7 linked regions of the Homo sapiens genome follow. The protein of the gene in region 3 interacts with the protein of the main gene of each other region in a pairwise test. Each region holds a gene or a part of one and is shown on either strand. Other genes may lie near its edges. The genes, in order: CBX1, BAG3, LITAF, IMMP2L, SRCIN1, POGZ and SMAD5.

Region 1 (4,440 bases), on a different chromosome or scaffold from region 3:
TGTTCATTAGTGCCTGGCACATAGTAGGCCGTTCAGATTGTTGATGAATGAATGATGAATAGGGGAGCTTTGAGATCCATTCTGAGAACTCAGCCAAATTAATGTGCATAGTAGTTTGCTTGTCCTGTGTCTGTGACATTTGGCAGAGTTAAGCTGTTGCTTTGCCATGTTTGTCTTAGCCTCAGTTAGTTTCTTTTTGTTTGTTTGTTTGTTTGTTTTTTGTTTTTTTAAGACAGAGTGTCGCTCTGTTGCCAGGCTGGAGTGCAGTGGTGGCATCATGGCTCACTGAAGCCTCAACCTCCTGGACACAAGCAGTCCTCCCACCACAGCCTCTTGAGTAGCTAGGACTACAGTCTCATGCCACCATGCATGGCTTCTTTTTTGTGGGGACAGTCTCTGTTGCCCAGAATGGTTAGCTTCAGTTTTGTACTCACTCTGGTACTAAATATAGAAAAGGTATACAGGCTGTGCAACTGGCCGTTTTAAATACCTCAGGCCTCAGATTCTGGGTTTTGTCAGCAAGCAAATAGCTTGAATATATCTGTTTTAAAAGAATCTTGAAAAATCTTCTGTGTCCTTTGTATTGACCTGAGCAATAATTTACCAGTAGCAATGTCTGTTGAAAAATTGAATAGCCTTTCCAAGGTTATTTGGAGAAGTTACTCAGATATGGACAAAATTTAGATCTTGTCAATATTTGCATAGAATAACTTGTATTAAATCTTTCCTGCCTTTAGCATTTATACTTTGATGACCAGAAGGGGGCAACCTAATTTGTCTGTGAAATTGTGCCTTTTAAAATAATAGTTGACACTTTGAGTGCGTAACAGAACTATGGTATTAATTTTTTTTTTTTTTTTTTGAGACAGAGTCTCGCTCTGTCGCCAAAGCTGGAGTGCAGTGGCGCGATCTCAGCTCACTGCAACCTCCGCCTCCCAGGTTCAAGCGATCCTCCTGCTTCAGCCTCCGGAGTAGCTGGGACTACCAGGGGGCCCCGACAACGCCCGGCTAATTTTTGTATTTTTAGTAGAGATGGGGGTCTTGCCATGTTGGCCAGGCTGGTGTTGAACTCCTGACCTCGGGTGATCTACCCTCCTCGGCCACCCAAAGTGTTGGGATTACAGGTGTGAGCCACTGCGCCCAGCCTATAGTATTAATTTTTAACTGACAAGAATGGTGTATCCTTATGGGGTACAATGTGGTGGCGTTTTTTTTTCTTTTTTTGAGACGGAGTTTCGCTCTTGTTGCCCAGGCTGGAGTGCAGTGGCGCAATCTCAGCTTACTGCAACCTCCGCCTCCTCGGTTCAAGTGATTCTCCTGCCTCAGGCCTCCTAAGTAGCTGGAATTACAGGCGCCTGCCACCACGCCTGGCTAATTTTTTGTATTTTTTTAGTAGAGATGGGGTTTCATCATGTTGGCCAGGTTGGTCTTCAACTCCTGACCTCAGGTGATCCACCCTCCTTGGCCTCCAAAGTGCAGAGATTACAGGCGTGAGCCACCACGCCCAACTTGTGGTGGGGGTTTTTGAACTTTTATTTTTCTCACATAAATAGAGGCAGGGACTCACTATGTTGCCCAGGCTAGTTTCGAACTCCTGGCCTCAAGTAATCTTCCCACCTCACCCTCCCAAAGTACTGGGATTACAGACATGAGCCACTGCACCTGGCCCACTGTGGTGGTTTTTGTTTTTCTTTTCTTTTTTTAGACAAGTCTTGCTCTGTCACCCAGGCTGGAGTGCAGTGGTGCACTCCACTCAGCTCACTGCAGCTTCCACCTCCCGGGTTCAAGTGATTCTCCTGCCTCAGCCTCCTGAGGAGCTAGGAATACAGGTGCACACCACCATGCCCAGCTAACTTTTTTTGTATTTTTAGTAGAGATGAGGTCTCACCATGTTGGCCAGGCTGGTCTTGAAATCCTGACCTCAAGTGATCCACCCACCTCAGCCTCTCAAAGTGCTGGGATTGCAGGTGTGAGCCACCATGCCTGGCCACTGTGGTGTTCTGATACGTTTCCAATGTAGTCATAATTCTGGTCTAGCTTTCTAACCACTTTTATTTTATCTTAAATTCACCTTTGAAAGATAGCTTGAGGTATCTCTGTGTCCATACTAACATTTGTAGACTCTTGTGGCCTCTCAACCCAAAAATCTGTGTCAAAATATCCATGTCAACATACTCAAGGGGTTTTCCAAGTTTCAGAACACATCTCAGATAAAATTCAAAATGTATTCGCACACCAGCATTCTAGCCTTTGATCCTCTGGAATTCAAGGGCTGGTGTTCCTTTAAAAATGAAACTCCTGACTGGGCGTGATGGCTCACGCCTATAATACCAGCACTATGGGAGGCCTAGATGGGTGGATCACCTCAGGTGGGAACTGAAGACCAGCCTGACCAACATGGAGAAACTCCGTCTCTACTAAAAATACACAATTAGCTGGGCGTGGTGGTGCATGCCTGTAATCCCAGTGACTCGGGAGGCTGAGGCAGGAGAACTGCTTGAACCTGGGAGGCGGAGGTTGCAGGGAGCCGAGATTGCACCACTGTACTCTAGCCTGGGTGAAAGAGCAAGACTCCATCTCCAAAAAAAAAAGAAACTCCTGCTAACTGTGTGTGGCATAAGTTCTTGTTTTCTGCTTAGTCAAGTTTTCCATCTGGAAAGCATTTGCTTCGCAAACAGCCACAGCTTACAGACTACAAGCAGTTTAGAAACAAGACTACCACCTGAATATACTACACATGCCTTCACCTGCCTTTTGATGATTGGTATGTAGTTGCTGATTCTTTCAACAAAAGGTACTTCTTTCTTGTTTTCTCTTTAGGGCTTATGGATCAGATTTATCTTGCTGCTTATTCCCTTAAAAGCTTATAGCTTTGGAATTCTATTCCCTGATGCTTCTGAGACAGTCATCCTCTTTTTTTTGAGATGGAGTTTTGTTCTTGTTGCCCAGGCTGGAGTGCAATGGTGCAATCTCAGCTCACCGCAACCTCAGCCTCCCAGGTAGCTGGGATTACAGGCGTGTACCACCATGCCCAGCTAATTTTGCATTTTTAGTAGAGATGGGGTTTCTCCATGTTGGTCAGGCTGGTCTCGAACTCCCAACCTCAGGAGATCTGCCTGCCTCAGCCTCCCAAAGTGCTGGGATTACAGGCGTGAGCCACCGCGCCCCACCTGAGACATCCATCTTTATTGTCCATATAGGGTTCAACAACTTGTTCAGGTTCCAGACCTACCTTTAATTGTATGTGCAAGTAAAAATAGAAACAGAATGCTTTGGGAACCCCAAAGAAAAGAGAAATATTATTTAGCTAGGTTGGGTAGGCTTCATGGAGAAAGTAGCATTTTTAAGCTGGGTCTTGAAGAATGGATAGGATTTTGACTGTTGGCCCTGTACAGGAGCACACTACTTTCTTTTTTCTTTCTTTTTTTTTTTGAGGCAGAGTCTTGCTCTGTCACTGAGGCTGGAGTGCAGTGTCAAGATCTTGGCTCACTGCAACCTCTGCCTGCCTGGTTCAAGTAATTCTTGTGCCCCACCCTCCCAAGTGGCTGGGATTACAGGCATGCACCACCACACCTGGCTAATTTTTGTATTCTTAGTAGATATGGGGTGTCACCATGTTGGCCAGGCTGGTCTTGAACTCCAGGCGTCAAGTGATCCACCCGCCTCGACTTCCCAAAGTACTGATTTATAGGTGTGAGCCACCAAGCCCAGTCAGGAGCACACTTTTTTTTTTTTTTTTTCCTTTGAGACAGAGTCTTGGTCCGTCACCCAGGCTGGAGTGCAGTGGCGCGATCTCAGCTCACTGCATCCTAACCCCGTTTTCCGGATTCAAGCAATTATCGTGCCTCAGCTTCTTGAGTAGCTGGGACTACAGGTGCGCCATGCTGGCTAATTTTTTTTTTGTATTTTTAGTAGACACGGGGTTTCACCATGTTGCTGGGCTGGTCTCAAACTCCTAGCCTGAAGGATCCACCCACCTCGGCCTCCCAAAGTGCTGAGATTACAGGTGTGGGCCACAGAGCCCAGCCCACACTTTTTTTTTTTGGAGACAGAGTCTTGTCCTGTATCCCAGGCTGGAGTGCAGTGGCACAATCTTGGTTCACTGCAGCCTTCACCTCCCAAGTTCAAGGAATTCTCCTGCTTTAGCCTCCTGACTATCTGGGATTACAGGTATGTGCCACCACACCTGGATGATTTTTGTATTTTTACTAGAGTTGGGGTTTCACCATCTTAGCCAGGCTGATCTTGAACTCCTGACCTCAAGTGATCCACCTGCCTTGGCCTCCCAATGTGCTGGGATTACAAGCATGAGCCACTGCGCCCTACCAAGCCCACACTTCTTTTTTTTTTTTTTTTTTTTTTTTGAGACAGAGTTTCACTCTTGATGCCCAGGCTGGAGTGCAGTGGCACGATCTTGGCGCATCGCAACTTCCGCCTCCC
Region 2 (3,973 bases), on a different chromosome or scaffold from region 3:
GTCCCTCCCAAGGTTAAAAAAAAAAAAAAAAAGCCACTGGCACAGCAAGAAGAATCTCCTTCTACCCAGGCCTGAGTGTATCTCGTCCCTAACTCCAGAGGCTTCTAGGAACCCAATCCAGGAAGATAAATCTGGTCTCAGTTTGGTTTGGTGACTCACAAGGTGTTAATAAAGATGACCCCAAGATTCTCAGAGCACATTTCCAACCCCCAGTGACCTAGACTCCAAGGAACACTTTGGCCAGCCTTGGGCAATAGTGGGAGCTGGCTTCCCTGTGCGCTTCCTTTTTTAATTTTTAGAGACAGGGTCTCAACTCTGTTGCCCAGGTTGGAGTGCAGTGGCGGGATCACAGCTCACGGCAGCCTCATCTCTTGGACTTAAACTATCTTCACGTCTCAGCATCCCTGGTAGCTTGGGACTGAAGACGCATGCCACCACCTGGCTGATTTGTTTTTTGTAGAGACAGGGTCTTGCTATGTTGCCCAGGCTGGTCTCAAACTCCTGGCCTCAAGGGATCCTCCTGCCTTGGCCTCCCAAAGTGCTGGGATAACAGGTGTGAGCCATTGCGCCAGGCCCTCTGGGCACTTTTGGACAATCTCAGCTTCTTGGTGAGGCCTGAGGACAGGTGGGCAGACATGCTACCTAACTGGCACCTTGGCTGTTGGCTGGGTCGGTCCGAACGGATGCAGCAGGCATGTTCCCATTACCGGAGTTCACAGCCCTGAGTCTTCCCAGGTTCCTGTTGCAATCTGAGACTGAAAGGTGACCAAGACAATTCTCTCTTGAGCCGGGCTATTGGAGACGTCACAAAACCCAAAGCAGGCTTGTTAAATGCACCTGTCATTTATTCTGACTGAAACCAGGGACAGACAATCTCCATGATGCCACTGCTTTCAAAGATTTAGAAACCACAAAAACCATTTTGAGTTATATTATTACTTTATTTTCTTTTTTTAAAATGTAGCATTAAAGTCATCCAACATACAGATATTCCTATGGCTCCTGGCACATTTTACTCTCTCTAAAGTCAGGTATTTTAATTATGAGATGAAGAAAATCATCTCATTAAAATGGCAACATTTCTGATAAATGTTTCATATTTATGTGATGGGTAATTGACTCCCCATCTACCCCTCCAGTCCAGAGCTACAAAAGACAGTGCACAACCACAGCTAACAGGTGGTGGGGGTGCCCAAGTAGACAGGGCTGCAGAACAACAAGCAACGGGGTTAAACTTCTCAAACAACAAGCAACTTCTTTATTTGTACAGAGTAAGAATATAGAAGAAAAGCATCATTTTCCTTTTTAGCCCTTTTATTAGTGTTTTGCCTCCACCCAAGTTACTGCATACCAAGCAGCTAATAAAAACCAACTGACTTAAAGTCTCTGAAATGCATGCAACTTAAAATTCCCTAAAGCACACATCGGTTCCGAGTCTGATTTTTACAGGGCAGAGGCTACGGTGCTGCTGGGTTACCAGGGGTGTCTGTCATGCTGCTGGGGTTTGAAGTCGCTGCTGCTGTGGCTTCTGGCTGCTGGGTTTCTGTGTGGGGATCTTCTGCATTTCCAGCATTTTTCTTGCCCTTGTCTGCTGCCACGGCACCCATCTCCATGATTGCCTGCAGTGGCTGATCTGCTTCAAGGTTGCTGGGCTGGAGTTCATAGACCTGGACTTGACCTGGGACATCAATGGCTTTCTGTTCAAGTTTTTCCAAGATGGTCTGAACCTTCCTGACACCGTCTCTCCTGGCCTGACGCACATCGGCTCGTCCCTCGGGGTCCACTGAATCCAGGGCCAGCAGCTCTTTGGTCAAATACTCTTCGATCATCAGGTACTTTTTGTCAGTCTTCTTGCCTTCAAAGTTGTCTACAGCCTGCTCCAGCCCCTGTACCTTCTCCAGGATGGCTTCCACTTTCAGCACTCCTGGATGTTTTGGGGGAGCCTCGGCTTCTCCTGGTTTTGGAGGTGTAGCTTCTGCAGGGGCAGTGCTGGGGGCTGCCCTCTCTTCTGTAGCCACACTCTTGGGGGAAGAGGGGACAGCAGAAGGGCCAGGGCTGGGAGGAGGACAAGGAACTGGAGCAGGGGGAACTTTCACCTCTACCTTCTCAGAGGGAGGTGGGGGCTTCTGGGAAACAGGTTTAGAATCCACCTCTTTGCGGATCACTTGAATTGGGATGTGTCCAGGAGGGAGTTCTGGTCCAACTGGGCCTGGCTTACTTTCTGGTTTGTTTTCAGGCTGGGAAACAGGTGCAGTTTCTCGATGGGTCATGGGCTGCTGAAAAAAGGACACAAAAATATATTTTTAATAACTGACTGAAAGTCACAGAAATTGTTTGTAGCTAGTACAGATTAGAAAGAAAACTGAGAAATGGCTTTTTAAAAAAAGTTTAATAGTATAAAAGATTTTCAAAGTCAATCAATGGCTGTTACAAAATAAAAACATGGTATTAATCATGTATGTAACCCAATCATTAGTCAGGCTTCCATTGATCACCCCAGGCTATTTGTCTATTACCTCTCACTGAATTTCTCTGTAGATGGTATTCTTAATGGCAATGAAAAGAAACCCAATAAAATTTTCAAAAATGAAAATAGCTAACCTGGGCAATATAGTAAGACCCCAACCCTACAAAAAATCTTTAAAAATTAGCCAGGTGTGGGAGCTTGCACTCGTAGTCCCAGCTACTCAGAAGGCTGAGGCGGAAGAATCGCTTGAGCCCAGGAATTCAAGGCTGTAGTGAGCCACGATTATGTCATTGCACTCCAGCCTGAGTGACAGAGCGAGATCCTGTCTCAAAGAAGGAAGGGAGGGAGGGAGGAAGGAAGGAAGGAAGGGGGGAAGGAAGGAAGGAAGGAAGGGGAGAAGGGGGCAAGGGGGAAGGGGGCAGGAAGGAAGGAGGGAAGGGGGAAGGGGGAAGGAAGCAGGGAAGGGGGGAAGGGGAAGGGGGGAAGGGAGGGGGAGGGAAGGAGGGAAGGAAGGAAGGAAAGAAGGAAAAAAATAGCAAAAACTCATGCTGACTGCTGAACTAGGCTGACTCAGAGCAGAGTCCTGAGTGACTCCAGCTCTCAGGTGTTGCAGCCTTGGAGTCGCTGCCTCTGGTCCTTCTTCCTTACACTGTGCAGACAGTCTGCTCACGGTGTGATCTTCTTGTCTCCTGTTTTAGAAAAGATACGATCTTCTTTTTTTAAAACCGTGACAGCCTAGTAGTTTCTGCCCAGACCAATGTATTTTTTTAGGATTAGCCAAGATGCTCTAAATGGTTAACTCCAGAACAATTTTGCTTCAGGATAGCTGTGCTGTAGCCTAACATTCAGCAATGACACAGCGCCTCTGTGCTAACCTCTGGCTGCACAGGTTTTCCTGTGACTATAAACTACAGCCATATAGATATATAGATTTTTGTGGGGGACAGGGTCTCACTCTGTTGCCCAGGCTGGAGTGCAGCGGGGCTATCACAGCTCAATGCAGCCTCAACCTTCTGGCCTCAAGTGATCCTCTCACCTTAGCTTCATGATTAGTTGCAACTACAGGCACATACCATCATGCCTGGCTAATTTTTCTATTTTTTTGTAGAGACAGGGTTTCACCATGCTGCCCAGGCTGGTCTTGAATTTCTAAGCTCAAGCAATCTGCCCACCTCGGCCTCCCAAAGTGCTAGGATTATAGGTGTGAGCCACCACGCCTAGTAAGCCATATATTTTTTAATGAGCTATGCTCAAAGCAAAAATATCTTGACGCTTTTTGTTTTTGTTTTTGTTTTTGAGACGGAGCCTCGCTCTGTCACCCAGGCTGGAGTGTGCAGTGGTGTGATCTCAGTTCACTGCAACCTCTGCCTCCCAAGTTCAAGCAATCCTCCCACCCCAGCCTCCCGAGTAGCTGGGATTACAGGCGCCCACCAACATGCCTGGTTAACTTTTTTTTTTGTATTTTTAGTAGAGATGGGGTTTCACCATGTTGGCCAGGCTAGTCTT
Region 3 (4,533 bases):
GTGGTCCCAGGTACTCAGGAGGCTGAGCTGGGCGGATTGCAGGAGCCCAGGAGATCAAAGCTGCGGAGAGCTACGATCGTACCACTGCACTCCTGCCTGGACAACAGAGCAAGACTCAGCCTCAAACAAAACAAAACAAGTTTCTATTCCATCTTTCCCTGATTCCAAAGATAAAAAATTTGTTTTAATACAAATATCCAGAGGCAATGGACTTTTTTTTTTTTTAAGCATTTTCTGCCCACAGAATGAAAACAACAGCAGAGTCCTGTGGGCAAGAGGGGGAATCAGGTGCCCAGAAAGCTGTTTTGTCTCCTTCCTTCCTTATTTAACACATGACCTCAAGGAAGTTAACTAAACTCTCTGGGACTCTGAGCCTCTTATTGAAGTTAGGAAGAGAAATATTGTTCCTTCTCAACCTCAAGTCACCAAAGGACAATGTGGAGGAACGTGCCGGTTGCATGAGGCTCCTGAAACTCACAAACACCGTTTCCTTCAAGGAAAAGAATGGAGCCCCTTGGGGTTTTCTGAGTGGCTCACGTGGCCAGGTATAAGGAAGCTACTTTTACCTGCTTGGTGGGAAACAAAAAATTGATTGTGTTTCCTCAGATTTTTCTCCCAGAACAGAAACTGTTATCTCTTTAAACATAATACCTTTGGTGCAGACATAAAATTTATATAATTTCCCTGCATGGGCAATGGGAAAAATACTTCGGGTCATAAAAGGATAAGAAGTTTTGAAGCAATTCCTATGAAGAATTTTAATGTACAGATTCTTTAAAGCTTCCCTCGGGCTCGAGCAAAACATTATTATTTAGGTCATGAAATTCTAGAAGAAAAAGGAATCCCTGAGGATATTGCCCTGTACACAGCTGGAAGCAGCTGTGAAGCTTGTCCCTACATGCAGGGCGTGGTTTCAGCAGATAAGCAAGAAGAAAAGACGGAAGACCAATTTCTGGGGACGGATACGCTTAAGAGCAGCAGGGATGACTTGGCCTCCCAGGGGGCATTTTTGTTCAGAACACTGGGGAGCGTGGTGCTCCTAGCATTAAGCGGGTGGGGGCCAGGGATGCTATTCAATATCCTACAATGCACAGGACACCCCCTACAATAAAGAAATGTCTTGGGCCAGGCATGATGGCCCACACCTGTAATCCCAGCACTTTGGGAGGCTGAGGCGGGTGGACCACCTGAGGTCAGGAGTTCGAGACCAGCCTGGCCAACATGGTGAGACCCTATCTCTACTAAAAGTACAAAATATTAGCCGGGCCTGACGGTGCACACCTGTAATCCCAGCTACTCAGGAGGCTGAGGCAGGAGAATAGCTTGAACCTGGGAGGCGGAGGTTGCAGTGAGCCGGGATCGTGCTACTGCACTCCAGCCTGGGCAACAGAGTGAGAATCCATCACAAAAAAAGAAAGAAATGCCTTAGGCCAGGCACAGTGGCTCACACCTGTAACCCCAGCAGTTTGGGAGGCCAAGGTGGGCAGATCACCTGAGGTCAGGAGTTTGAGACCAGCCTGGCCAAGATGGTGAAATGCCAGCTCTACTAAAAATAAGCTGGGCGTGGTTGTGCACCCCTATAATCCCAGCTACACGGGACGCTAAGGCAGGAGAATCGTTTGAACCTGAGCAGTGGGGGTTACAGTGAGCCGAGATCGCCCCACTGTACTCCAGCCTGGGCGACAGAACCAGATTCCATCTCAAAAAAAAACAACACAAATGTCTGGCCCTGAATGTCAAGCATGGTGCAGTTGAGAACCCACCCCCGCCAGCACCCAGAGAGAAGGGCAGGATGGCTTGGGGCCAAGTGGGAGGCAGACTCACCCCAGCAGGCACAGGCTCCCGCAGGACAGCCAGGTCAGAGCACCGGCGTTATAGGACAGCTGACTCACGATCATCTTGTTGCAGGAAGGACAACACATTTGGATAGGGCGGTCCAAAAAGGTGATGGGGTGCTGCACGTAGACCGTCTGCACGGTAACTGATGAAAGGGAGAGGGACAAACACAGGTTGCTCAGGAAACAAGGCCAATAGCATTCACTACAGGACAAAGAGAGGAACGCAGGGATGCCAGCAAATATTATATTTGTACATTTGTGTTCATAGCATGCGTTCATCGTCTGGCTATCTATGAGAGCCAAAAGGGGAAGGAACACCAGTGTCCATCGACGGACCAATAAACTAACACAGCGAAGTTTATCCATCCACCAGAATATGATTCAGCCTCAAAAAGAAAGGAGGACCGGGCGCGGTAGCTCATGCCTGTAATCCCAACACTTTGGGAGGCCGAGGTGGGAGGACTGCTTGAGCCTAGGAGTTTGAGATCAGCCTAGGCAACATGACAAGACCTCATCTCTACAAAAAAATATAAAAATTAGCCCAGCGTGGGAGTACACGCCTGTAGTCCCAGCTACTCAGGAGGCTGAGGTGGGAGGATCAGTTGAGTCTGAGAGATTGAGGATGCAGTGAATCATGATTGCGCCACTGCTCTCCAGCCTGGACAACAGAGCGACGCTCAGTCCCAAAAACAAATAAATAAATTTTAACCAGCCTCACACTGTGCCTAGCAGCTCTTGATAAATAATCCACTCTCTTTACACAAACCCTTTGATAAACTCTGACAGCCAATGATAAGGGTAGAGTTTACCAAGCCAGGAAACGCAGGCCAACTCTGTAAGACAACAAGCTAGTGAACTGTGTTGATACAAGAAATGAAAATATAAAATAATGCTAGGAAGAAAAAGCTATGTGAAAACATGTTCGAACATTCTCAAGAATCAGAAGAGAATCCAGGCCGGGCACGGTGGCTCACACCTGTAATCCCAGCAAATCCCTTGGCTTTGGGAGGCCGAGGTGCGTGGATCACCAGAGGTCAGGAGTTCAAGACCAGCCTGGCCAACATGGTGAAACCCTGTTTCTAAAGACAAAAATTAGCCGGGCATGATGGCACGTGCCTGTAGTCCCAGCTACTTGGGAGGCTGAGGCAGGAGAATTGCTTGAACTTGGGAGGCAGAGGTTGCAGTGAGCCGAGATTATGCCACTGCACTCCAGCCTGGGCAACAGAACAAGACTCTACCTCAAAAAAAAAAAAAAAAAAAAAAAGAGAGAACCCAGGGTGATGAAAATCATCAAGCACTTCAGTTGTTAAGCTCATATTTTTGTTAAAGCAACTTCCTTCTGTTCCTTTTTACGTTAGAATGTCATTTATATAACAAATGAATTAGGGGGAAATTACTGCCTAGAGTTAACTGAACTTAGTAATACTCATAGAAAGACCCTCCTTCCAGAAAAGTAGTATTAAATCATACTTTAGCACTTACGTGTAATTTTTTTTTGGCAGGGGGGACAAGGTCTTGTTGTGTTGCCCAGGCTGGAGTGCAGGGGTACAATCATAGCTCACTGCAGCCTCAACCTCCTGGGCTTAAGCAATCCTCCCACCTCAGCCTCCCAAGTAGCTGGGACTACAGGTACAAGCCATCACACTCAGCTAATTTTATTTTCATAGAGACAATGTCTCACTATGTCACTCAGGCTGGTTTGGAACTCCTGGCCTCAGGTGATCCTCCTGCCTCAGCCTCCTCAGTAGCTAGGATTACAGGCGCAAGCCACCACACCCTGTTCATACATTTTATTAAGTGTTTTTGGGGTTCAAGAATAAGTTATTTGGACCAGGCTCTGTGACTCATGCTGATAATTCTAACACTTTGGGAGGCCAAGGGAGGTGGGAAGATCGTTTGAGCTCAGGAGTTAAAGATCAGCCTGGAAAAACAGTGAGACCCGATTTACACAAAAATTTAAAAATTAGCCAGGTGTGGTGCTGTATGCCTGTAGTCTCAGCTATTCCAGAGACTGAAGTGGGAGGATCACTTGAGCCCAGGAGGTCCAGGCTATAGCGAGCCATGACTGCACCACTGCACTCCAACCTGGGCAACATGGTGAGACCCTGTCTCAAAAAAAAAAAAAAAGAAAAAGAAAAAGAAACTATTTATTGATCACAGGATGGTCTAAGAATCTAAAGTCATTATCTCATCCTCTTCCAGCTCAAAATAACTTGAACACAACAATAAGAGTTCACTTTTATCAAACGAGTACTCTGTATTTGGCACACACAACTTCCTCTCATGTTAACAACTCACTGATATTTATAAATAGGTACTTGATGAAACCTATTTTACAAATGGGGAAGCTGAGGCACAAGGAGGTTATGTGAACCCAGGCAGTCTGATTCACGGGCCCCCTCTCTGAGCTAAAGATTTCTTTCAGAACTACCTGTGATACTAAAGCAGTGACATACCAGGGCACCCTTGGGCGGAAGGAAGCACCAAAGGACAGGGACCATCTAGTTGCTCAAAAGCAGAAGAGCAACTTGCATTGAGGGTGAGCTGGTATGAAAACACAATCACACATTGCTCAGGACGGTTTCTTCTCCTCCCTATTCCTACCTCGGCCCTGGCCTCAGGGCAGAAGTTCTGCATCAGACCTCAGGAGGAAGTGTGCGGGCCCTTAAGACACAAACTCCCATTCTCAGAAGAA
Region 4 (4,533 bases), on a different chromosome or scaffold from region 3:
AGAGATGTGAGAAACTTGAAAAAGGCTATTTTGTTCTAGCTGATTATTAAAGGGGGAGAATTCTTGAATATAAAGTAAGATATAAGGTAAAGCAAGCAGGAAAGGATTTGGAGCAAGGTGTGTCATAATGCTAACATGGCACAAAGCAAAATAATTCAACTTCCATTCAGTTTTACTGGTCAAAAGGAATAGCATCATTTTTGTTTTGTTTTGTTTTGTTTTGAGACAGAGTCTCACTCTGTCACCCAGCCTGGAGTGCACGGGCACAATCTCTGCCCACTGCAACTTCCACCTCCAGGGTTCAAGAGATCCTCCTGCCTCAGCCTCCTGAGGACCTGGCATCACAGGCATGTATCATCACACCCGGCTAATTTTTGTATTTTTAGTAGAGACAGAGTTTCACTATGTTGGCCAGGCTGTTCTCAAACTCCTGACCTCAAGTGATCCACCTGCCTCGGCCTCCCAAAGTGCTGGGATTACAGGTGTGAGCCACCATCACTTCTATAACACATTTATATGCTGCTTTAATGGTTTACAAAGGACTCTCACATAAATGCTTACAATGAAACTCAAAGCAATCCTATGTCAGGTAGAGACTGTTATCCTCTCAGAGAGCCTACCCTCACAAGACAGTCCACAATGATCCTTGCCTCATGTCCTTGTGTAATCCACTCCCATACTGAATCAGGGCTGGTCTGTAGAACCAATTGAATACATCTGAAATGATGGTGTATGACTTCCACAGGTAAGTCATAAAGGGCACTGCAGTTTCTACTTTGGCAGCTTGAATCTCGGGAAAGTCATCTGCCATCTCATGAGAATAGTCCCACGGCAAGCCCATTGTGGAAAGGAACCAACCTGCCAACACCAACTGGCCAGCCAAGTGAGTAAGCCACCTTGGAAGTGAATCTTTTAGCTCCAGTGATGCTCCTATAAAACTTCCACTCCTGCTGATATCTGACAGCAACCTCCAGAGAACCAAGCAAGGACCCTCAAATTGCTGACCCACAGCAACCATGAGATAACAAACAATCATTGTTGTTTTCAGCCACTAAGGTTTTCATGTTACAAAACAACAGAGAACCCAATTTTACATATGAGGCTCAGAGAGGTTAATTTACCAATTATCATATAGGAATGAGTAGAGAAAACAGATCTGGAACCCAGTCTTTAGGCTTTAGGTTCAATTTGTCATTAAACAATACCACTTTCTTCTCAACTAAAATAAGGTATAATACTGTAAGGATGATCATTCCTACACGATTATATGACTGATACTAGTATGTCAAGCTTCCTACAGTACAGAGACACAGTATATGTCCCTGCATTCTTAACGAATATAATGGGAATCTCCAAAATAAGTCCATTTGTGGTGCTCCATTGTGCTCTGTGGAGTTGTTACTATTTTCTGGAAAATGGCTATTTTTAATGTGCATATCATGAAAATAAACACTTAACACATTTAGAGAATTTTAATACTAAAATATTACTGACACTGAGACTACACACTTAAATCTTAATTACAATAAGCATCTGTGTAATTTTAAACAATTAGAATATATCAGACAGGAAATGCTCAACTGCTATTTCTTTAAGGTTCTGCATTTTGGCTTTAGGTCTTCAACCTTGTAGCATTACACAAATGTAGTAAAATATATCATCAAAATGCTCGTGATGGTAAAATATTAAATCAAAATCCATAAAGTAGTTCCTATCTTACAGGACAAGGTAGCCAGCTCTTAAGCCTGTCCACTTCTGGAGAAGGTCAAGAGAACATTTTATTGTTATAATCACATCTGCATATAATGTTCCTTCACACAAATCTCCTCTTTTGAGCCATATAACTTTGCAAAACAGGTAGGCAGGACGGGTATACTACCATCCTATTTTTCAATGATGGCCTTAGAGAAGTCTCAGTAACTTAACTAAGGATACGTAACTATTAAAAGGAATTCAAGAATCTAATCTACAATTTTTTAGCTCCAAATCCCAGCCTTTTCTTCTAAGCCATGTTTTAGCCCAGTGGTTCTCCACCCTGACTGCCATGAGGACACCTAAGATGCTTTGAAAATATCACTGCCTGGACCTCATCCCCCAGATACTTGATATAATTGCACTGGTTTGTGTTAGCTGTCTAATATATAATAAACCAGTGTTGGTAAATTCACAGAAAGTTTATATCACAAGGGAGAAAATGCTGATACGTCTATATGTAAACTGAAACATATTAACCCCCTAAGAACTCCCTCAAACACAAAAATATCTTGCAATAAAATCACGCAGAACAAGAAGAAAGGGAAGATGAGAAACCCAAGCCCCTTCTGCTGCTATCGTGGGGCCATTAAGGAATATTTTATTCCCCTAATCTTACTCCCCGAACCTCACCATGCCATATCTCAAGCTATAGCTCAGGTATCACCTTTTGTGAGACCTTCAGGATCACAAAAATAATGAAGTCCATTTTTTGCATCTATCTTACCTTGAACTCTATCATAGCACATATTGTCCCTCAAAGCATTGCTTTATTTTTATTTTATTATTATTATTATTATTATTTGAGATGGAGTCTTGCTCTGTCACCCAGGCTGGAGTGCAGTACCACATTCTCGGCTCACTGCAACCTCCACCTCCTGGGTTCAAGTGATTCTCCTGCCTCAGCCTCTGGGATTACAGGTACATGCCAGCATGCCTGACTAATTTTTGTATTTTTAGTAGAGACGGGGTTTTGCCATATTGGCCAGGCTAGTCTCGAACTCCTGACCTCTGGTGATCCACCCACCTCAGCCTCCCAAAGTACTGGTGCTGCTTTATTTATATATCCATTTTTCTCACTGCCCTGAGGGGTCCTTAACCCATTTATGCTGGAGGTTGCAAATTTTTTTTGTGAAAAATCAGGCCTTGGCGATGACCTTGAGAAGTAGGATATAAATAACTCCCACTAGCTTAGCGCTCCAATAATGGAGCACTAGGCATAAATGCATTAAGATCAGATCCCTATGTTACTCATCCTTCCTGCCATATATATCTTTGTATCCAGGGCCTTTACCATAGCAGATATTAATACATGTTGGCTATGCTGAATGATTTTTATGTTTGTTATCATTATTTCCTCCATTCTCCTAGCAGACACTCCTGTGAAATTTTTCAACTTTTAATAAAGGAAAATGGAGTTTTTACGCACAACTGGATTAGGTTAGAGAATAATGTATGCAAAAGGGCCAGACGTAGTGAGAGCAAGACAGCAGTGAACTGTGGGGCAGGAAAGAATAGAGTAGAAAGGACATTTAAAATTCATATCTGACAGTTGGGGTCAGATATGAATTTTGCAAGCCGGGAAGGAGTAGGCAAACAAAGCGACAACCTAATCTTCATTCACAAAAAAAAAAATATGACAAGCAAGGAATCAGGCAACTGTATTTTCAACATCTCCCTTTCTATGGTGTTTCTAACTCACAGCATACAGACATGTTGTTTCTCTCTCAAAAAATAAAATCTGAAGCAGTGATATGATTTCACTATGTATTTGACTTTTTTTTAAGATTCCACATGTGAGATAATACAATATTTTTCTTTCTGCATTTGGCTTACTTCACTTAGCATAATGTCCCCTAGGTTTACCTATCTTATGGCAAAAAGCAGAATCTATTTCTTTTTTAAGGCTGAATAATATTCCATTCTATATATGTACTGCAGTTTGATTTTCTGTTGTCTTTTGTTGGACAGTTAGGTTGTTTCCATATATTCACACCCATCAAGATGGCTACTACCAAATAAAACAAGAGATAAGTGTTGGCGAGGGTGGGAGAAAAGAGAACCCTTGTATACTATTGGTACAACCATTATGGAAAAAGTAGGGAGGTTCCTAAAGAAATTAAAAATAGAACTACCATTACTTCTATTTTGTACCAATTAGCCATCCCTCTTCTGTGTGCATGTATATATATATATATATACATACCCAAAGAAAATGAAACCGCAACCTTGTAAAGATATCAGTCGGAATTTTTAAAAGCTCTCTAGGGGATTCTAATATGTGTGCATACAGAGATGGAGAATAAAACAGTGATCCCAGGGGAGGGGGAAGGAAATTGAGATGTAGGTCAAAGGACACAAAGTAGCAGCCATGTATAATGAAAGAGTTTGGGAACTCATGTACAGCATCAGTACTATATAATACTGTATTGTATTCCTGACTTTTGCTAAATGAGTAGATTTTAGCTACTCTTGTCATACACACAAAAATGGATAACTATGTAAGATGATGGATGTTACTATGTCTCACTACAGTAACCATTTTACTATTTACATGTATTCCATAACATGTTATTTTCCTTAAATATACACAATAAAATGTATTAAGTAAATACCCTGACTGAAGAACAATTATCTCCTAAGAGGGACCCAAGCATATCTACTCTCTATTCTCATGTCCAGCCCCCTTCAGCCTCATCTCCTATTCAGTCCTTTACCCACAGCACGATAGCTTTACCTCCACCACTACAATGAAACCAGTGACTTCTAACAGTCATTGAT
Region 5 (5,158 bases), on a different chromosome or scaffold from region 3:
GATGACAGACGCCATGAACTGTTCTTCCTTGAGCCCCAAACTCAGCTCCCTCAGTTCAAATCCTCAACACTGTCTCCCTTCTTTCCCCAAAACCTAACCTGGGGTGGGGGTGGGGGCTCAACAAACTGGGTACTTCAAAGAGCCCAGCCGCCTCCCTCCTAAGCACTTCCAGGGCTGGGGTTTTGGCAGAGAATTCCAAGGTTGGCATAGGCAGATGGCAGCCATGCCACCCCCACCCTCTAGCTCTGACCACACTGTCGATGCCCACAGCCAAAGAAGGAATCAATGGTTCTAATTAAACCCTTTTTCCAGGGTGGGTCCCTGGCGAGAGAGAGGGAAGAGGGAGAGAGACAGGGAAGGGAGGGGGGAGAGGGGGAGAGAGAGAGAAAGAGAGAGAGAGAGCGCGAGAGTGCATCAGAGAGGCCCTGCATCCCAGTGCCCAACCCAGTATCCTGCACATCTTTAAGACGCCTGGAACCCAGCAGGGATGAGGCCACGAAGACCCCAGACCCTCCGCATTAGGCAAGGAGGCAAGTAGAGGGGCAGGGGAAAGCCTGGGGTGGGGGTAGCTCTTTGAGGGGTTCATTCGAGCGACCCTTCCCCTAGTGGAGCATCCCTCTCCACTCAGCACTCCCCGAGGACCACAGTTGCCTCTTCCAGATAGAGCTCCAGGGCACAGACAGTGGGAGCCAGAAGGGGGATTTGTGCCTCCATCCCAGCCTTGAGGGTCATCACAGAGAACCAGCCATCGTGGAAAGGGCAGAAGAAGCAGGAATTGTTGTGGGGGGACTGGACAAAGACCCTCTTGTCCCCAAGGCAGGGTGGCAGGAAGCCAGGGCAAAGCCTTTGCACTTGCTGCCAGTGGTGCCTGGGTGCCAGGCAGTCTGGGTGGGGACAGCGGGGTGGAGGGGGGGTGCATCTTATTCTTGGAAACCCTCCCCTTATGCCCAGAGCCCTCACCCCATCCCTTGCTTCTACCCCAGGCCACCAGCTAAGTCTCTGTCCCCAGCAACTCTCAGCTTGCCTGGAGCACTCCTTCCTGTGTGAATGTTCCTTCCCATGTCCCTGACACCTGTATGGAGTGGCCCATCACCAACCAGAACCAGCAAAACCCCTCAAATGCACCATAGCTGCTCCCCACATACAACCACACCAGAAACCACCACCATCACAGCTGCCACCAGTGGCGACAGCCTCACAATCTCCATCAAATGCATCATCAATTTTTAAAGATCAACAAGAGGGAAAGGGATGGGAATAAGAGAAACTGAGGCAAGGAATTAGACAGCAAAGCAGTTGGCTCAAGGTCACCCAGACCAAGATACCAAGAGTCGGGAAGAAGGTATCCTGACGACCCCCCAAAAGTGCTCAAACCCCACCCAAAGGAACATTCAGGCCCACAAACCTGGAAGTCTGGTCAGCTTCCCTCACTCCCAAGCCTCACCTGTTTCTCCCTTCCCCAAAACAGACAGCAGCTCCTCCATCTCCTTTTGAAAGGCTGCTGCCAGAAACCCCCACCCCCAGCTCGGGGAGCCCACTTTCCTTAAAGTTGGGGTGCTGCAGGACCTCCTTGTCCCACAACATTTGAGGAGGGGGGCTGGGAAGATCCCCCTCCTTGCATACTTCCCCGCGCCTGCTCACCTGGCTCCCCTCGGCCCCCAGGGTCCCTCGGTCCAGCCTCCTCCCTGGGAGAGCGGGCTCTGCCCTCCGCCGTCCTCTCCCACCAGGCCAGGGCAAAGCGCCGGAGGCACTGCCAGGGCTGCATGGGGACGCGTGGGGCTGGGGGACGAGCACCAGCAGCCGCACACGCCCCGCCGGGCCCTGACAGCTGAGCTGCGGAGGCACCCGGCCTGTCCCCTCTGCTTCCACCAGCATCCTGCTGCCCCCACCGACAGGACTCGGAGCTGGCCCGGGAGCTTCTGACGTAGCAGGGGGGTGCGTGGGAGGGGAGGGGGGGCCACGGTGCGTCCCCTTCCCAGCCCCACCCTCCACCCCTCAGCCGCCTGCCTTCCCTATCTTCTCACTCACCCTAGATGCCCTCCCCAGCTGGGGGCGCCCTCCCCTGCCCCCTGGCCTCTGCAGGGGGAGGGGTTAAGATCAAATAGCCCCTCCCTAAACCCCTCCCTCTCGTGGCCCTCCCTACCCGCTGGTAGAGCGGGGAGCTGGTCCCCAGTTTCTGCAACTGCTGCTGAGGCTCAGAGGTCTCCAGGGCTAGGGCCTCGAGGTGCGGGGAGGGGGGGTGTGTGGAATACAGGCTTGTATCCTGGCAACGCGGCCAACCCCAGAACGCACTCATCCCCTTCCCTCCCTGGAGGCTGGCGCAAAGGGCCCACCACCACCATCCTAGCCCGTGCACCCCATTCTGGGAGCTGGGGGAGGGAGGCCTTTGATGCACCCCTCACTTCTCCATCCCCTTCCCCTCCCCTGCATCCTCCACTTCCCCCACCTCGGAGGGACGCCCTTCTCCCCCCACCCTCCTCACCATCCATCCCCCTTCTTCTCCTCACCCCTCCCCCTTCCACACAAGCCCCTTTACAGTTGAACCCCTCTGGCCCCCACCCCGGGGCGTAGTGAGGCCCTCCCCACCCAGTCTCCTGCCTCGCCACCCTGCCCCCTTCTCTGGTCCCAGCACTCCTCTCGCCCGGGTCCTTCTCCCAAGCCCGGCGCACAGCGGTCCCCTGCCCCCACACACCTGCGCCCCAGCATCCCTCGCCCCGCCGGCCACCGCCTCCCCGGCCCGGCCGCCGCCCCCGCCCCCGGCCGAGGGGGAAAACACACAAAGAAAACAGAAATACCTTCCACTTAAGCATGGAGGCACATTAGGGAGGAGAGAGACAGGGACATGCCTTGGGACGGAGCGTTCCCCATCGGGCGGGGGCGCGGGGGGCGGGGGCCCCGGGCCGGCCTGCCTGGCGCTCGCCCTCTCGCCGCCTCGCGGGCTCCTCGCTCGGCCCCAGCCCCGGGGCGCGGTGCCAGGCGGGCGGGCCGGGGGCGCGGGCCCCGCCGGGGTGGACCAGCTGGGAGGGCGCCGGCGGCCGGGCGTGTGGGTGAGCGCGCGCGCGGGCGTGTCACCGAGTGTGCGAGAGCGAGTGTGTGTGTGTTTGAGTGTGTGTCTGCGCGCGCGCGGGCCGGCGCGGGTGTGTCACTGCGGGCGGGCGCGCGCGCGGCGCGGGCGCGCGCGTGTGGCCGGAACTTACAAAGGGCCGCCCGGGGCGGCGGGGGCGGGGGAGGGGAGGGGGCACTGCGCCTTCTCGCGCCCTCCAGCTTCACCGCGTGATCCCGCAGCGCGCGGCCGGGGCCGGGCGCGGGGCGCGCTCACTCTCTCCTTCCCGCGCCACCTGCTTCGTCCCACCCCAAGTAGTCTTCGCGCCACGATAGAGACAAATACATTGACCGAGGACCGGCTCGGAGGAGGCACCCGGGGAAGCGGGGACACTTGGAGGGTGGAGGACTCCTGGGTCTCCAAGCCCGGGCGCGCCTAGGGATGGAAAGGCTCTCGGGGCTGGGTGGGGAGGCGGGGCGGCGAGACTGGGGGCTCCCTTCAGCCAAGGTGACCGCGGAAACCAACAGCCGCCCCATGCTGGGAGCGCCCGGATCCTCCTCTGCTTCTGCCTCGCGACCCCTCACCCCAGCGCGCCTAGACGCGGCTCGGTCGGAGGGTCTGGGCTCCCCGGCGCCCCCTGCTGGGCCGCCGCCTCGCCCCCGCTCCGGGTTGCAGCCCCTCCTGCAGGCGTGCGCGGGAACTGCAGGCAGGTCCGCGCCCCTCCGGCCAGTGAGACCCCACCGTAGGACGCTCCAGCGACGGTCCCTGCTCACGCCTCGCTTGGCGGCGTCACTGCCGCCTCTACTTCAGCCCGCAGAGCACTAGCTCGGCTCCACCCTGCCGTCCCCCGCCCCTCCGCGTCCCACCTTCGTTGGCCTACCTGTTGGCTCCGCAGACTTCTCCAGCGCTGACCCGGACCCAGACCCAGACCCAGGCCCGCGCCGACACCTCGTGATTCCAGCGGCCCCCTCCCTCCCTCGCTCCGATGCTCTGGCCAGTCCCTTCTCTCTCAAGCTTTCTTGCGGAGGAGAAGGTGGGCTGAGTCCCCTGTCCCTTTTATTTACTTCTGGAGTTTCCAAAAGCAGTTTAGGTGAGCAAGAGAGTGGACACAGTACTTCTATTCACTGTGGGCCATCAGGCAGAGTGGCAGGCAGGCAGAGAGCCCAGGAGAGGAGACCCCACCCCAAGTGGCCCAAATGACAAACCGGTTTCCCCACTTCCTGGTCTACCCAGTTGCAACCTTAATCTGGGCTCTCCCAATTTCCTATCCACCCCCAGGCCTGCCCCTGAGCCAACCACATGCCCAGCTAGGGACAAGGTCCCAGATTCCCCTTAGAGATAAATAACCAATTGCAGTAACTCAGATGCCAGGGCCAGGACCAGAGGAGAGGCCCTTCCCAGCTCCAGTGGGACAGATCAGGAGGACAGCCAAGAGCTGTGTCCTGGACACACAGTCTGGGCACACGACCCCAGCGGCAGGCACCCTGACTTCTTCCCTCCTGGGCCAACTGCCTCTCCCTCTGCCAACTGGATGGTGCCCATCTTTTGGCCTCTGAGCGCACAGTGGGCATCCATCCAGTGCCCTGCCTGGCTGCCTGCCCAGGATGGGCATGGGAGGCAGCAGGCTCTGTGTGGGGGAGGCTCAGGGGAGGCAAGGGTAGCTTCCCCTCAGCACACGGACACCACCTCCCAAGCGGCTGGGAGCCCAGAGCTCTGGCACAGGTCGCTCCTCCGTTCAGATTCCTCACCCACTGACTGCACAGGACTCCTGCCCTTCACCTGCCCCCAACTCAGATTCCCCCCAAGGGACAAGATTTCTTCCCTCCCCCACTTTGTGCCTAAGGGGAAGAAAATTAGCAGGTGCTCTACCATAATCTCTAATTTTACCCTTTCGACAGCCTGATGGAAGTGAGCATTTTCAACCCCCTATCAGAGAGATATAGCCAATTGCCCAATGTAAGAGCAGCAAAGTTGAAATTCAAACCCACATCTGCCTTATGTCAAAGCTCCCTGCCTTTCTTCTATCACCATCATCTCATAACCCTGTGGGTCGCCACAGCAGGGACAACCCCTGGGACACAAAGTCTCATAACCATATAGTCGTTAGAAGAGAAC
Region 6 (3,073 bases), on a different chromosome or scaffold from region 3:
CTTTCACCCTCAAAGAGCTGGTGAAGACTTTCAGGCTCAATTGTCTCTTCAGGAGATGATCTGGGTCGTGGAGTGGAAGACTCAGAATGTTCCCCACTCAGCTTCAGTTGCTCCTCTAGGGAGGCAATTAGCTCCTCCTGCATGTCAGCATTTCTTGTAGGTGAGTTAATGTTGCCATCGGGGCCAGGCAGAACACTAGCCACCAGGAAGGAGCGCTGAACTAGCTCTGGACAGTCCCCAATGACACCTAGCACTTCACCCAGCCAGACAAGCACCAGCTGAAGCAGGACATCAGAATCACATGCAGTATCTGCCATTTCCCGAGCCTGTTCCTTCCATTTTTTATGCAGGAAGTTCTTGACAGTTCTTTTGATGCATACATCTAATGGCTGAATTTTGGAGCTACAGCCTGCTGGGACCACTGCAGGCAAAGTGCTAGAGGCACTAAGCATAGCCAGTACCTCTTCTGACAAGTGAGTGCGATGACAGTCCATCACAAGCATGCCTTTGCTGCGCTGGCAAGCTGTGTGCTTCTGCCACACTCGAGTTGACCACAGCTCCATGATCTCGTCATCACTGTAGCCACTCTCCTTTGCCTCTAGCAATATGGAGTCTGGCATGTTAGCAGGCTGATCCATCTGCCCTCTGTAGAAAACCAGGGTGGGAAGGACAGTGCCATCTGCCAGAATGGCTAGGACTACATCACACCAAGGTTCCCCTGTGCCCACTGTCTGCAGGGCATTCTCCTTTCGATCATCACTGCTCAGCACCTCTGTATCCAGGAACAAAGAGATCTCATCAATAGCCACAATCATAGACAAGGGTAAGTCCTGGTTGTGAATCTGCCGTTGTACAAAATCAATGAAGAGTCCTGCATTCTCTGCTACATCCTTAGGTAGGGTGTGGGCCACAGCTCGCCGGGCATGGGGAGTCAGGTGGTGCCGCAGCATGAAACGCACAGCCCACTCATAGGAGATCTTAAACCCCCCTTCCAAAGAACGTCCTATTTTGGTGGCCTTCTGGAACAAGGTCTCCTCATTTACAGGTAGCTGTTGTTCGCGCTGGGTTAGCACCCACTCAGCCAGTTTCTCTTCTGCCTCAAAGCTCAGATATTTGCCCTCTAGATTCTCCCCCTGGGAGGCCTGGAAACGTCGAAGCCAACGGCGAATACGTCGCTGGGGATTTCGGAAGTGTTCAGCTGCCTGTTCTGTATTGCAGCATAGAGCAAACAGTACTACTCGAAGCTTCTTCACAGACAGCTGCTCCTTTTTGCCAACTCCACCACTACCACCACCACCTGATGCTAGCTCAGGTTCTTGGGTGACTGGGCTCCCTTCATCCTGATCATCAACATTCAGACATTCGGCTCCCTCTGTAGCCAGCGGTGGAAGGGCTAAAGCCTGCGGGTGAGTGGGGGTTGGTGGTGGGGTTGCAGTTGAGGCTGGTGATGGGAGTGCTGGGGCTAAGGGAGTTAGTAGCTCTTCAGGCTCAGCTGGGGTGGCCCCCGCAGATTTCACAGTGGCAGCTTTGTTAGTGGGGAAGGAAGGAGGAGGGTACATATTCTTCACGTTCCGGTCATGCACTCGGTCACGAGTCTGGCCATGCCTAAAGGGGTGAGGAGCAAAGAGAAGAGGAGAAATCTCAGTTCAACTAGGAAATTGAAACAATAATATGATAATAATAATAATAATAACAGAGTAAACACACTGCAAACCAGAAATTAAATTGTGAGGTGAGTTTTTGTTACCTTGAGTGAGCTATCCAAGTGAGTCCTATGGAAAATGAAACAACAAAAATAGTTAGCTCAGTGAAAAAATAAGCCCTCCAAAGACAGTGCCCTGGGATTCAACTTACTACATACAAATACGCTGTTCGCAGTGACCAGCTTTCCCAGTTTTATATAAACTTCAGGTCGGAAGGTTTCTAATTAGGTCCAGCACATCTCAACAGTGAATGAGTGAGGCCAAGTAGGTATGCTCCTGATGCATACAGTACGAACCTGTATCTTTTTTCCTCCCCTTGCTCAACTAATCCCCTTCTCTCCTACTTACCCCGTGGCAGGATGCTGCTGGATCTGTGAGAGGGGTTGAATACCAAATGCTTGGCCATAGCATCGCCCACAGAGGTAACAAAGGTACATGAAGTGCAGGCCAGCTTGATTCCACTAAAAAAGAGAATTGAGACTATGTAAGACAAACACAGCAGTGACACTTGAGACCATTAAGCTTTGAGGCTTAAGAAAGAAAAGGAATGCCCTCCCACTTTCTCCTTTTTCTGAAATTAATTCACATAACCACCTCTCCAAATAATGAAAAACCTGAAAATTAATGTAAAAACCTGAAAAATTAAGATGCTGCCAATAAGTTTTTTCTTACCTCACAGAATTTTTAAACAAAGCCAAATACTTGGGGCTCTTCCGTGGAACATGATTGCTGAGAAAGACAAAGAAGTGGTATGAGTTACGGAGTTCTGCTGGCTAAGCTAGAGATCACCAGCCAGTGACAATGCCCCCAACAAAAGAGACACTTCTTCAGTGCACCCTAATCTCAACCTAAGCCAGTTTTCCTGTCACCATGCTTCTTAAACTTTAATATGCATACAAGTCACTGAGGATCTATTAAAATTCACATTCTGGTTCAGTAGGCCTAGGGCGGGGCTGAGAGTCAGCATTTCTAACAAGCTCCCACCTAATACTACTGGTACTTGAATAGCAAGGCCCTATGAAATTAGAGCACAGACCATCAAAACCGAAAAAACAGAGCCTCTCACTCTGCTAGGAGAGAAGAACAAATAGCTCTAAGAGTTGAAGGAGGAAACATATTAGAAGCAGGGGAGAAAATGAAATGAGTGCTCAAGAATCTGGCTGGGGCCGGGCGCAGTGGCTCATGTCTGTAATCCCAGCACTTTAGGGAGGCCGAGGCAGGTGGATCACCTGAGCTCAGGAGTTTGAGACCAGCCTGGCCAACAAGGTGAAACCCCGTCTCTACTAAAAATACAAAAAAATCAGCCAGGCATGGTGGTGCACACCTATAATCCCAGCTACTTGGGAGGCTGAGACAGGAGAATCACTTGA
Region 7 (3,728 bases), on a different chromosome or scaffold from region 3:
TCCCTAGGCCACAGTGAAGTATAATTATCTTGGGCCACACATAAAACACACTAACACTAACGATAGCTGATGAGCTAAAAAAAAGAAAAAAAACTCGCAAAACAATCTCATAATGCTTTAAGAAAATTTACCAATTTGTGTTGGGCCGTATTCAAAGCTGTCCTGGACCACATGCAGCCCATGTGTGCAGGCTGGACAAGCTTGAATAGAGTCTTTTTTATCTATTAAAAAAAAAAAAAAAAAAAAAAAGAACAAGTGCTTTTATCTTTATCCTTTAGGGTTAATATGTAGTTTGGGTTTTTCTACATTTCTGGCAAGGGCACATGATTTTTCACCATTCCTTTTTTTTTTTTTTTTTTTTTTTTGAGACGCAGTATCGCTTGTTGCCCAGGCTGCAGTACAATGGCATGATCTTGGCTCAGTGCAACCTCCACCTCCTGGGTTCGAGCGATTCTCCTGTCTTCAGCCTCCCAAGTAGCTGGGATTACAGGCACGCGCCACCACACCCGGCTAATTTTTGGATTTTTAGTAGAGACGGGGTTTCACCATGTTGGCCAGGCTTCTCTTGAATTCCTGACCTTAGGTGATCCACCTGCCTCAGCCTCCCAAAAAGCTGGGATTACAGGCCTGAGCCACTGTGCCTCGCTCACCATTCCTTTCTAATTAGAATGAGTTTGCATGTCTTGTATATGTAATTCAGAGGTTGGTAAAAGTGTGCAACACAGTGACAATGATGCAAAGTCAGTCTGTGATTTAAAATTTTTTCAAAAAAGAAGACAAAAGGAAATAAAAAATTGTAAATTCACAAAGTGGATCATCAAAGGTTGATACACCGAGGTCAAGCAACATAAGAAGTAATTATTCTGAATCAAAGAACTAGTGGAAATGTAAAAGATAGTAACAATTTTAATATTTGAGTTCTTATGTTCTAAGTACTGTTCTAAATACTGTATTTGTATTACACTTCAATTAATCTTCCCTCAAATCCTTCCTATGAAGTAGACTTTTCCTTTACAGGTCAGGAAAGTGAGGCATAGAGTGGTTAAGCAACTTGTCTAAGCTATGAGGCCCATGACTCAAACGCAGGCAGGCCAACTCCAGAGCCAAAACAAAAAAAGACACATTAAGCAGGTTTTGAGGTTTATTAAAGTAAAGAATTAGCAAACAATATGCAAAAACAAAGTTCTTAAGAGTTATGGCTTTCAAAAGCACAATATAGTAAAACCTAATACATTTTCATAAGTATCAAAATAACAGAATTGAAGCATGTTGCTAGAATTTCAGCTTCTACAACATAAACAGAAGCACAACAAATACAAATAAGCAGCAGACCTACAGTGCAGCCACTAGCTTGGTCTTCATTATCTGTATATGAAATATCTTTTTAAGAAAATGTGGGCAGGTAGATACAAACATTCTATTTCCATGATTACAATCCTCTTCGATTTTAAAATAAGTGAATTTCAAAATACAACTTACGCCAACCATATTTAAAAAAAAAATCACTTGCCTAACCATTATCTTCTAGAGTTCCTATAGTTAAAATACTTTATGAATAAATCAATGCAACATCATCTTCAATGATATTAGAAGGGAAAATCTGACCCTAAAAGATTTTTTTTTTTTTTCCACAAAGAACTTGGGATTCTTTGGCCTTACTGGAGTTTTGTTATAGCTAACACCAGTCTGTATTAATTAAGAAGGCACTATTAATGAGGGACGGAAAAATCTACCTGTACACAAAATTCTGTACTTTAACAGCATCTTCAAATAAACCTTTAAAGGATAATGGTTTACGATCATTTTAAGAATTTTAAGAACTGAGTTATTTGGACAAGAACCATACAAACCTTTTTCACTCTGCCATGAATGATCGAAGAATCCTGCTCTAGGACTGGATCTTTTCAGAGAAAATAACTTATCACCTGTTTTACTGCAGTTGCTACTAGCAATTATTATATAGCATGTGCTCTTCAAAACAGAAATAAAAATTGATGTGTGAAATCCCTTTCATTGGTTTTGGTAAACCATCCAATTTTGGGCTGTCATTTCAATTATAATACAGTTGTATTTTAAGAGAGAAGATAATCCAATATAACAAAGGCTTGATAAATATTGTCACTCTGTAATCAGGACATACTAAACTGTAATTCAGCGAATTCCAAAGAACTTTCCAGGTTTCTGTCCAGCAGGTAGAATTCTTTGTTTATGCAGAAGAAATGCCTTCAATTCTCACATTCGATTCAGGCATCTTGTGTGATAAGAAAAGCTCCTAAGAATCTTACTTATATCAATGAGAAAAATGCTGCTGCTCTGGGAGACCTGAGATTACTCCCCAAAAAGCTGCCCTAATAATATCTGATACCACCTATAAACCACCACTTAGGAAAACTCTCTCCATAAAAATCACCAAACACTTCTAAAACCACCAGGCTACCTACTACCCTAAGATACTTGCTCATCTAGCTGAACAATATAACGATGACACACATTTATATTCATACCCAAGAGATTAGGTGAGGATTTAACTAGTAAGACAAAGAAGGGATCTGACATTCTTTAAAGTTAAAATGTAAGTCCAAAATATAAGTCATCACAAAAGGCTGAACTCAGTAATTATCAAAAAATTCTTCCTTCCTCATGAAGTAAAAAGGATATTTATATATTTTAAGTGGCAAAGGTGATAATCATCCAAAGTACTATTAAGCAATTGATTAGAAAAAGTATAAAGAAATAGATCTAAATTGGTACATCAGATGTTCTCTATCACAGAAGTACAGCACTTTGATAGGTACTATCAAACTTTTTAGAGTTTCTCTGCTGTTGGAAGAATTTCATTTTTTGTATAAACATTCTCTTCCAACAAAATACTACCACACAGGGGAAGGAACTGTTCCCCACAGGTACCCTCAGGTAATATGGAAGGTTTTTAACATGAACCCCAGTTCTAATCTTGACAACAGATTTCAGGTATGAGTACTTAATAATCACTTCACATCCTGAAGGATATCTTACTCTCAAATGTTATGAAAGGTATAAAATAGCTACATCCTCTATCTGTGCCATTAGATGTGGCTTGTTGAACTGTCTAGTACTCTTACTCTGGATTTCACCTCAGAAACCCAACCAATTCTATTATTTTTTTTATATAGCAACAATACAATGTGAAAAATTATTTATATTCTGACACACATATTTGACATTTTGATTGACGTCTTCCTTAAATCTCCTCTTAAAAAGAGGGTTAGTTTTAGCAGATCAATAACACGCCTACTAGTTTACATTTCACGTCAGCCAGGCAATACTGACCAGACCAATACTGACCAGACCATAAATATTATGTAGAAATGTTAAGCAAATGAATCTCTTATATCTTGCTTTTTGCCAATCAATATCTTTTTGTTGCTTTAATTCATTACTGAGATTTCATTCTATTCTGCTGTTTGCATTACCAAACTGGTTGCAATTTTATTATTCCCAGATTCTGTCTTTTCAGCCAGCATAAATATATTGTACATGCTATGTGATTATTCTAGTGGTGCTAGAATTTTACTATAAAACATTCTGTAGATTAAATTAAAACATATAACCATAATTTGCTAAAATGGTTTCTTTCAGAGGTACTTTCCTTTCACTAGCCAGTTTTTAAAAATCTTACTAGCAAATTTTATCTCCTATACATAGATATATGAAAATCCTTAGGGACTGTAAGAATAGCTGGACTGAAT

What was found.
Region 1: the proteins of LITAF (region 3) and CBX1 interact in binary tests that used the Homo sapiens proteins (3 or more experiments, as listed by UniProt).
Region 2: the proteins of LITAF (region 3) and BAG3 interact in binary tests that used the Homo sapiens proteins (3 or more experiments, as listed by UniProt).
Region 4: the proteins of LITAF (region 3) and IMMP2L interact in binary tests that used the Homo sapiens proteins (3 or more experiments, as listed by UniProt).
Region 5: the proteins of LITAF (region 3) and SRCIN1 interact in binary tests that used the Homo sapiens proteins (3 or more experiments, as listed by UniProt).
Region 6: the proteins of LITAF (region 3) and POGZ interact in binary tests that used the Homo sapiens proteins (3 or more experiments, as listed by UniProt).
Region 7: the proteins of LITAF (region 3) and SMAD5 interact in binary tests that used the Homo sapiens proteins (3 or more experiments, as listed by UniProt).

The regions. Positions count from the first base shown.
Region 1 is NC_000017.11:48,094,039-48,098,478, reverse strand, and holds part of CBX1 (chromobox protein homolog 1), read left to right. Parts: intron 1-4,440. UniProt on the Homo sapiens protein: Component of heterochromatin. Recognizes and binds histone H3 tails methylated at 'Lys-9', leading to epigenetic repression. Interaction with lamin B receptor (LBR) can contribute to the association of the heterochromatin with the inner nuclear membrane.
Region 2 is NC_000010.11:119,674,767-119,678,739, reverse strand, and holds the end of BAG3 (BAG family molecular chaperone regulator 3), read right to left. Parts: intron 2,277-3,973; coding exon 1,458-2,276; 3' UTR 921-1,457; downstream 1-920. UniProt on the Homo sapiens protein: Co-chaperone and adapter protein that connects different classes of molecular chaperones including heat shock proteins 70 (HSP70s), e.g. HSPA1A/HSP70 or HSPA8/HSC70, and small heat shock proteins (sHSPs), e.g. HSPB8.
Region 3 is NC_000016.10:11,551,709-11,556,241, forward strand, and holds part of LITAF (lipopolysaccharide-induced tumor necrosis factor-alpha factor), read right to left. Parts: intron 1,982-4,533; coding exon 1,825-1,981; intron 97-1,824; coding exon of another isoform or gene 15-96; exon of another isoform or gene 1-14.
Region 4 is NC_000007.14:111,552,084-111,556,616, forward strand, and holds part of IMMP2L (mitochondrial inner membrane protease subunit 2), read right to left. Parts: intron 1-4,533. UniProt on the Homo sapiens protein: Catalyzes the removal of transit peptides required for the targeting of proteins from the mitochondrial matrix, across the inner membrane, into the inter-membrane space. Known to process the nuclear encoded protein DIABLO.
Region 5 is NC_000017.11:38,602,838-38,607,995, forward strand, and holds the start of SRCIN1 (SRC kinase signaling inhibitor 1), read right to left. Parts: upstream 3,116-5,158; 5' UTR 2,869-3,115; coding exon 2,847-2,868; intron 1,882-2,846; exon of another isoform or gene 1,766-1,881; coding exon of another isoform or gene 1,642-1,765; intron 1-1,641. UniProt on the Homo sapiens protein: Acts as a negative regulator of SRC by activating CSK which inhibits SRC activity and downstream signaling, leading to impaired cell spreading and migration. Regulates dendritic spine morphology. Involved in calcium-dependent exocytosis.
Region 6 is NC_000001.11:151,404,860-151,407,932, forward strand, and holds part of POGZ (pogo transposable element with ZNF domain), read right to left. Parts: intron 2,433-3,073; coding exon 2,376-2,432; intron 2,165-2,375; coding exon 2,052-2,164; intron 1,773-2,051; coding exon 1,748-1,772; intron 1,606-1,747; coding exon 1-1,605. UniProt on the Homo sapiens protein: Plays a role in mitotic cell cycle progression and is involved in kinetochore assembly and mitotic sister chromatid cohesion.
Region 7 is NC_000005.10:136,180,134-136,183,861, reverse strand, and holds the end of SMAD5 (mothers against decapentaplegic homolog 5), read right to left. Parts: 3' UTR 1,129-3,728; downstream 1-1,128. UniProt on the Homo sapiens protein: Transcriptional regulator that plays a role in various cellular processes including embryonic development, cell differentiation, angiogenesis and tissue homeostasis.